Linked DNA regions of Homo sapiens: region 1 is linked to region 2. The links come from fine-mapping of genetic effects on gene expression. A gene starts in region 2. The other region holds a variant in brackets. All regions are shown on one strand. Distances are between the middles of the regions. Region 1 overlaps UBR1 (ubiquitin protein ligase E3 component n-recognin 1). Region 2 holds the start of MAPDA (N6-Methyl-AMP deaminase).

Evidence for each region. PIP is the estimated chance that this variant, and not a neighbour inherited with it, causes the effect. A credible set is the group of variants that fine-mapping cannot tell apart.
Region 1: its variant is the best candidate, but not a certain one, in a credible set for the expression of MAPDA in fibroblasts (GTEx, PIP 0.87).

What each region holds. Positions count from the first base shown.
Region 1 is chr15:43,091,896-43,096,286 of GRCh38, forward strand. All of the region lies in intron 1 of UBR1 (ubiquitin protein ligase E3 component n-recognin 1), which reads right to left. Among named protein-coding and RNA genes, the nearest start is that of UBR1, 12 kb to the right of the region's middle. The variant A/G (reference allele first, on the strand shown) is at 1,816.
Region 2 is chr15:43,328,912-43,333,259 of GRCh38, forward strand. MAPDA (N6-Methyl-AMP deaminase) reads left to right here and starts at 1,761. Exons shown (of 13, transcript NM_001324366.2): 1 at 1,761-1,948; 2 at 2,989-3,089. It overlaps LCMT2 (leucine carboxyl methyltransferase 2), which reads right to left and starts at 1,662. Exons shown (of 1, transcript NM_014793.5): 1 at 1-1,662. The coding sequence starts at 1,578. RefSeq lists enhancers at 1,570-2,520, 1,753-1,802.

The sequences.
Region 1 (4,391 bases), 240 kb before region 2:
TACACCATCTCAAAAAAAAAAAAAAAAAAAAAAAAAAAAAATTAGCCAGATGCGGTGGCACATACCTGTGGTCCCAGCTATTCGGGAGGCTGAGGTGGGAGAATTGCTTGAGTCAGAGAGGGAGAGGTCAGTGAGCGGAGATCATGCCACTGCACTCCAGCCTGGGCAACACAGTGAGACCCCATCTCAAAAAACAAAACAAATTATACTCTTGGCTGATTTAGGCAGAATGTCTGGGTGCTGATGCCTTAAATACCCTCTCCATCAGTCTCACTACTAGCTCTCTGTCCCTCCACCCCCACACCAACTTATTTATCCCTCAAGGCCCAGCTCAAGGCCAACCTTAGCGAATCCTTCACTGATCAGCCCAAGAAAATTTTTCTTCTGTTAATTCTAATACAGTATTTGAAGGCAGTACTCATTCTGTACTTATACCACTGGCTGATATCATTAATTACCTTTAAATGTGTACATCTAGCCTCTTCAATTAGAATGTAAGCTCCCTGAGGAGAGGAACTTTGCTCTTCAAATCCCTGTATCCTATAGGCCTAGCACAAGTACACAATAAAAGTTATCAGTTAATTGCTAAATGCTACACATTTCTTGCCAGAGAAAACAAAGCAAATTTTGATAACATTAAGCCTTCTATAACTTTGTGTATAGAATTTTTTTTTTCTAAGACAGAGTCTTGCTCTGTCACCAGGCTGGAATGCAGTGGCACGATCTCGGCTCACTGCAACCTCTGCCCCCTGGGTTCAAGCGATTCTCCTGCCTCAGCCTCCCAAGTAGCTGGGACTACGGGCGCGTGCCACCCCAACCAGCTAATTTTTGTATTTTTAGTAGAAACGGGGTTTCACCATGTTGGCCAGGATGGTCTCAATCTCTTGACCTTGTGATCCGCCTGCCTTGGCCTCCCAAAGTGCTGGGATTACAGGCGTGAGCCACCGCGCCCAGCCTAGAATTTTTATGGGAAATAAAGTTCAGTTACACTCTTCACAAAAATGTTTTCCATTATTGCCAAACTGTGGAAAATTTTTTTCAACTAAAATAGGTTTGATTTTTTGCCTTTGGTTGGTTGTTTTTAAAATTTTCCCCCATTTTCAACAGGAATAAAATTAAGAATTTTTAAGTACCAAGTCCAGGAAAAAAAAAATAACTGTTTGAAATTAAGGGAAAGCTTTCCTAATTGACTATTCTGTAAAAAACAAGTTCTTAACAAGTTCTCAACATTAAAATTCCCAAACATTCCAAACATTTCCCTCATCCCCAAGGAGACTAGAGATATGTTTTCAACTCTGACCCAACAGCTTAGATGCCTGTTTGGGAACATCATTCTGAAAAAGGAACTTACTTAAGTAGATTAGTTTTGTTTAAACCACAATTTGACCTTCCTTAAACAACTGCTAGACATCTACAGAGCCTTCAGAGCCCAGTAATTGTTTTTCTAATTCTTCTTTTTAAAGTGGTAACAAAACCTGGAGGCGCTACCATTTTTCACAGCCACTATGGATTAGTAATAATTAGAGCATCTCTAGGCACCAAAAATCTTTGATTATACAATGTTTTCTTCTAATATTATTCTACAGACTCAAAGGTTTACAGCAACCAGGCACAATGGCTCATGCCTATAACCCTAGCCCTTTGGGAGGCCAAGGCAGGCAGATCACTGGAGCCCAGAAGTTCAAGACCAGCGTAGGCAACATGGTAAAACCCCATCTCTACAAAAAAACACAAAAATTAGCTGGGCATGGTAGCATGAGCCTGTAGTCCCAGGTACTCAGGCTGGGTACCTGAGTGGGAGGATCACCTGAGCCC[A/G]GGAGGTTGAGGCTGCAGCAAGCCCTGATCGCGCCACCGCACTTCATTCAGCCTGGGGAACAGAGTGAGGCTCCGTCTCCAAAAAAAAAAAAAAAAAAAAACCAAAAAGGCAAGCTCATAACTAAGCTAAAATCTACTTTCCTGTAACTTTTATCCTGTTACTGAAATAAACCAATATAATTCACTCTGCTTTTTCATCAGTCTTTTCAAATAAATGAAGATAACTATTACGTCTCTCATTTCTAGTCTCTTCATTTCATGGCTAAACTGAAAAAAAGAGAATAAAGAAATTTGGCCAGCCCTAAAGACATGGTATCCTGACCACTCTCCAACTTGATTACCCTTATGAAACTGCACAGCATGCTTCCATAAAGAGGAATAGGACTATTTATTACCTTCCTTATCCTGAGCACTAAACTGCTTCAAAAGATCACATTCTGAAAAGGCGTGGTGGCTCAGCTGTAATCCCAACACTTTGGGAGGCTGAGGCGGGCGGATTACTTGAGGTCAGGAGTTTGAGACCAGCCTGGCCGACATGATGAAACCTCATCTCTACTAAAAATACAAAAAAATTAGCTGGGTGTGGTGGTGCACGCCTGTAGTCCCAGCTCGGGAGGCTGAGGCAGGAGAATCGCTTGAACCTGGGAGGCAGAGGTTGCAGTGAGCTGAGATCGTGCCACCACACTCCAGCCTGGAAGACAGAGTGAAACTCCATCTCAAAAAAAAAAGCAAACAAACAAACAAACAACAAAAACATCCATTCTCACATTCTTTTTTTCTTTTTAAATTTTTTTCTATTTCTTTTTCTTTTTTATTTTCTTTTTTATATATATTTTAAATCCTCTTTTTCCTAGCTCCTGCAAGCAAAGCATTCTTTGGCTGCTACATCACATGACTTGGTTAAAGTGCAGACAACTAAAACCCTTAGATCAATCACATGTAAGAGACCTAGTCCTATACCAAATGAACCTAGATATAAGGCTTTACTTTCATCACAATTAAGTTAGTTTTGACACAATATTCAGCCTATATGGGATTTATCCTTTACTTGTTATCCCTACCAGCCTTGTGCTGTCTGTAAATATGATAAGTCTTCTATGCCTTTATGGCATTGATAAAATAAGCCAGAGTCAAATATAGAGCCACATGACAAGTCCACTCTCTTTTCTTTCCTGTTGAGATAACGTATAAGCATGCTGTCAGAATTTGGTTTTTGAAAACATTTTGTCCCTCCTAAGGGACAAATTCTCTTTGTCCTATTTGTTGTATTCTCTTTTTCATCTCTGTCATAAGTCATGCCCCAATTTTTTAGGCTTTCCTTGAAGTATCTGGATAAGTAAAATCTGCTTTCATAAACTCTGAGGTATCTATTTCATATTCTCTTTCTGCTGTATGGAATATATATCTGCAAACCAACTAAAATCCTCTCTTAAATTACAAGGCAGAACATGTGTGTATTTTTAAAAAATTGATAAATTAACAGACTTTCCCTCCAGTGGCTAAAGTCATTTCTGGCTTACCCATAAATACCAAAACTTCAAAGGCATTTTAAAAGGTGGTCCATAAAGACATTAAGTAGTTACAGCTTCACTCCTCTAAACAAGTCAAACAGACTTTGTTCTGAAGAGTGGCATTAAGTAAACTATTAGAAAGAGAATTATATTCAAGTGAGTAACAGTAGACTCCATTCTGGACAGGGTCTGTGTCATTCCTGGGCAGCAAGTGGGCAGTTAGGAAAGTGCACTAACTCTACTGGAGTCTTATCAGTAACGTTTACTTACCACAGCATATTTCCATAAGCACTCAGATTAGAATTAGAGTGTGACAACATTAAAAAAAAAAAAAAAAGGCTGCATCAAATGCTTTAAAAAAACTAAGCTCATCAACTATGGTTTATTCAAGAGGAGGCATGTTAACTGAAAATATCTTGAAAGAACATGTAGGCGGTCATAGTAAATCACCTGGCATTAGAGGTCTTAATATTTTGTGTTAGGTCATCTGAGGCAAGGGGTTAAAAGCTTAAGGAAAATTATTTCACAGAGCACAGCATATGCTTAATACCTTTACAGAAATGGATAAAGTGGCAGCAAGGGAACTCCGAGGTAACCCTCAAAGTCAGCATCCAAAGAAAGGATGGGCAAGATACAGGCACACCTCAGAGACATTTCGGGTTCAGTTTAAGACTACCACAATAGAGTGAACATAAAGTGAGTCACACAAATTTTTTTGGTTTCCCAATGCATATGAAAGTTATGTTTACACTACACTATACTAAGAGTGCAATAGTATGAAGTCTTTAAAAATGTACTTAATGTTAAAATACTGCTAAAAAATGCTAATGATCATCTGAGTCTTTAGAAAGTTGTCATCTTTTTGCTGATAGGGGGATCTTCCCTCAATATTAATGGCTGACTGATTAGGTTGGTGATTGCTAAACGTGGGGGTGGCTATGGCAATTTCTCTCTTTTTTTTTTTTTTTCTGAGACAGAGTCTCACTCTATCCCTCAGACTGGAGTGCAGTGGCACGATCTGGGCTCACTGCAATCTCCGCCTGCCGGATTGAAGCAATTCTCCTG
Region 2 (4,348 bases):
CACTGGGATCCTGACCCAAGCCATTGTCCCTACATGGAGGAAATGCCAGTCACTTAGTACAGGTTCCACCACGCTTCGACCCCCATACACAAACAAATATTCCTGATTCTGACAGGACACTTCTGTTGTTGAATGCCGCCAACAACACAAAGTGGAATCATCCTTTCGGCCAGCCTTTGTTATTGTCACTTTCAGGTCCTCAGTGTTATTATCCTCACTCTTAAAAAAATGAAGCTGGAGAACCCCCAAGGCTGGACTTACTGGGGACAGTCTCCCTCCCAGAACCAGAACCCGACTCTCTGAGAGTCTTGTCATGGTGTGATAAAGGCGTCCATCCCACTGAACTCCAGTCCCACAACTGCCTATTTGGCTGCCTTTCCATTCAGAGTCACAATCTCTTGAGAGCAAGTGAAACTGGCTCACTCGGCAGTGCCGCCCCTCCTGCTCTCCAAATCCTCCTGCACTGAGAATAACGTCTGGGCTCAAGAAGACAGAGGCGTGGCCATATCTCTTCAGGTTTGGGACCTGGCCCTCGCTACTGACTACGCTGGCAGGGAATACCCCTGAAGGCGAAGCAGGATTTACGCGAGGAAATGCCTCTGAGGATGGAAACACTAGGGTGTGGGAGAGGGTGTCTCCCCTAGAAGCTGCCAGAATGAAATAATGGGCGCACTTCAGATGCCACTCCTCAAATTCGTCAAAGGGTTCAATATTTTCCACCCGCCGGCGTTCTTCTGCGGGAAGAAAGCAGTGATAGAATTCATTCATGTCCACGGCACCGCAGGCGGTCCAGCCAGCTTGAAGGAAGCGGCGCCGCTGCGCCTCCACGTCAGGAAAACGCTCCAGGCCATGCAGGGGGGAGTTTAGCTGCCGAAAATGTTGCAGCATGAACTGGCCAAAGGCGTCTTGAGGCCTCATCTGCTCATAGACCACGAAAAGGGCATTAGGAAAACGCTGGGCTGCCCAGGCGATGAGGGCCGCGGCACTCTCCGGCTCGAGGTAGGTCAGCACCGCCTCGGCCAGGAGCAGAGTGGGTGAGGCTGCGTCGAGCCCCGCGGCGCCCAGGGCCTCCTCCACTCGCTGGAGCTGCCGCAAGTCCAGACCCAGGATGCAGTAGTCTGCGCTCTCAAAGCACAGCGCGGACGCGGGCTCCCCCCTCTCGAAAGGCCCGGTTAACGCGCACAGCTCTGGCGTCTCTCCAATCCTTTCTGCTTTGCGCCGCGCCACGTCCGGAAAATCCACCTCCCAGACTGCAGCCCGGGCCAGGCGGCCCGCGGTTTTTAAGCGAAAATAGAGCGAGTCGAAGCCAGCGCCGAGAGACAAGATCTGCGCGCGAAGCGCGGCCTGGGGCGCGCCAATCTGCTCCAAAAAAGCGCGCACGCAGTGCCTCACGGCGCGTGCGCGGACGTAGTAGCCTCGGTGAATGAGCGGTGCGCGGCGCGCCGCGCCCGGAACCAGCAACGCGGCAAAGGGGTCCTGCACGTACCCGCGCGCGGCCAGGGAACGCTTGCTGAGGGCGCTGCTGTCGTTGGTGTTCTGTACCGCGCCTGCCCGACGCTCACGGCTCCGGGGGCCCATGGCCAGAAGAGACTCAGGAATGGCAGTCTGTCACGGTTGTGAGCCGCCCCTTGGTTAGCACACACCTCACGGACCTCGGTAGGGGGAAAAAAACCACCCATGCTCCTGGACTTCCCCTTCCGCCGGCACTTGTGCGTCACTTCCGGGAAGAGCGCATCTCGCCAACCAGAATTGAGGAGGGTGTAGCCAGTGCTAAGTTCGCTTGCGGCTGACCTTTCTTTGGAATGTCGTGAGTTCCATTTGTCCCAGAATACGGTCCGCTACCGCTGTGACATGAGTGTTAGGGAAGGCGGGTTGTCACGTTTCTACAAGCCTTCCAGTCAAAAGGGAAACCTTGCCTAAGTCCTTGTAGTTGAGAAATCTCTAAGAGGTGAGTCTGTGGGGACTGACGACTTGGCTTCCTTGGACCGCCAAGGAAGGGTCTGGTAGGAGCCAAGAAGGGTCGGCACCACGGACCTTCAGTAGGCAAGGATTAGTTAGCTTCCTTGGGTGCTAATAGTTGCTGATTTATTTAATGCTCTCACAGTTGCAAAAGAGAACCCCATTTAAAACTTGAAAACAAGTCACTAAGGCCAGGGTGCAAACTGAAGAAACCGACCTTTACAAATAATTTATAGACACCTAACAAGAAGACGTTTCCCCACAGATAGTAGACTGTTGATTCCCTTGTATTCCCAGCCCTATGTTAGACTGACGGTGAATAAACCACTCAGCCTCTCTTTCTCATCACACCGCCTTGGAGAATTCTGTGGATTTTAAAGTAGTGTTGAATATGTCCCCAGAAAGGGGAGTCACTGAAGAGAGGTGATTGTTCCCTGTGATATGTTCTGAGCTTTGTTTTTAAGGAGTAAATCCAGGTTAGACTTCAGAATAATCATAAAGTTTCTAAATTGGGTGTCTGGGAGTCATCCATAGGAAACCACTTCCAGAGACATTTAGGAAATTTATCATTTGTTCACTGGGATTTGGTGACTGACTGGCTGAAATAGAAAAGGAAATCAGATAACTTTATGGTTAACTACAGGTGGTACTGCATAATGGTTAAGAGTGTGAGTTTTGGAGTCCAGCAGATTTGGATACTGGAGTCAAGAAAAAGTTTCGTATTTTCCAATGTTTTCTTGTGGAACAAAATGAAATAAGAAAGAAAAGGTTTGGATCAGGATAAAGATTCGGTAATTGAAAAGTGACATTTAGATTTGGTGTTTAAAAGCTCATTAATGGCCTTAGGGAGAGCAGTTTCTGTGGAGCAATAAGGGCAGAATCCATGTTTCAGTGAATAGGAGGTGAGTTAAAGGAGGTATCCAGTCTAAATTATTATACTTTCGAGGAGCTTAACTCAGAAGGAAAAAAGGGTCAGGGCAGTGGCTAAAGAATATTGTGGGATAAAAGAGTCTTTTGTTTTGTTTTCAGGTGGAAGCAAATACTGCACATGCGTGTTGGTCCTGTGAGGGAAACCAGCTAGTGGAGAGGGAGAGGTTGAAGGAACAGAAAAATGAGAAGACAACTCACTGGTAGAGTAACTTGGAATAGATAGAAATGGGATCCTGGGCACGTATTAGTTGTGGGGATAGGAGAATGAATCCTTTATCTGTGACTCCTGATGGGGTAAAAAAAAGATTATGGATAATCATAAGCTCAGGTGTGAGGTAGGGCAGAGAGAAAAAGAAGGAATTTGCACCTGATGGCTTCTGTTTTCTCTGTAAAGTTGGTGACAGAGTTGTCAGTTTAGTGTAAGGCATTCAGATCTGATGGAACATTTGAGCAGTTTGAGAATTGCTTCTGAAGGGATTAGAAGAAGGGCTCACCTATGCCTGCTGGGTCAGTGGATCCTCACCTCTAAAATGAGATTAAGTACTGCTTCGTGAGGTATCTCAGGGTTGATTGAGGGGCAAATAGAAAAAAAAAAAAAGTTGAAGGACTTTGAAAAATACGTAGCACCATAGAAACAAATTTATTTAATGACAGGTTCCTAAAATGTAGGTGTTATGTCAAAAATACTACTTGTTTTGCAAAGACCAGATCAAGAAAAGTAATTAAAGAAGAAAGAGAATGGAGTAAAATTTCTGATTTCGATGCCTTATGATTTAGGCCGGGGGAGGAGGGGCCATTGTTTAAATCTCAGTTTATTCTTATATAAAATGGGGATAATAATATCTCAGGGGTTGTTGTGAGGATTTAAACAAAATAACTATCTAAGACACCACAGTGCCTGGCTCATGGTAAGTGCATAATAAACAGTAACAAATTTTTTTTTATTCTGAGTTCCCTTTTGGGGGAGTAGGTGGGAGCATGAAAAAAGTTCCCTGGGAGACAGGATACTTGCTTCTGGCCCTGCTCTAATATTGATGAAGTATTACTAACGTGGATCTTATCCCAGTGTTTGTTGCCTTCCGTCCCAGAGCAAAACCAGTCCAGAAAAGTTAAATTTGTCATGGCATGCTGTTGTTGGTATCCATGTTTTAGGCAAGGAACAACAATTTTTTTTAATGTGTAAAGATTATGATTGCTTAGTTGCTTTTTAATTTCCATAGGTTAACATTGTAGCCAGTGGGTCAGTAAATTTACTCACAGCTAGTTAAAGGTCAGTCTGGAGGATGGTTTGAATGGGGCACAAATTAAGGTCAGGATCCTGGAGTAAAATTGAAAATCTGGCCGGGCGCAGTGGCTCGCTCCTGTAATCCCAGCTCAGGCTGGTGGATCACTTGAGCCCAGGAGTTTGAGACCAGCCTGGGCAACATGGTGAGACCCCGTCTCTACAAAAAAAATTTTA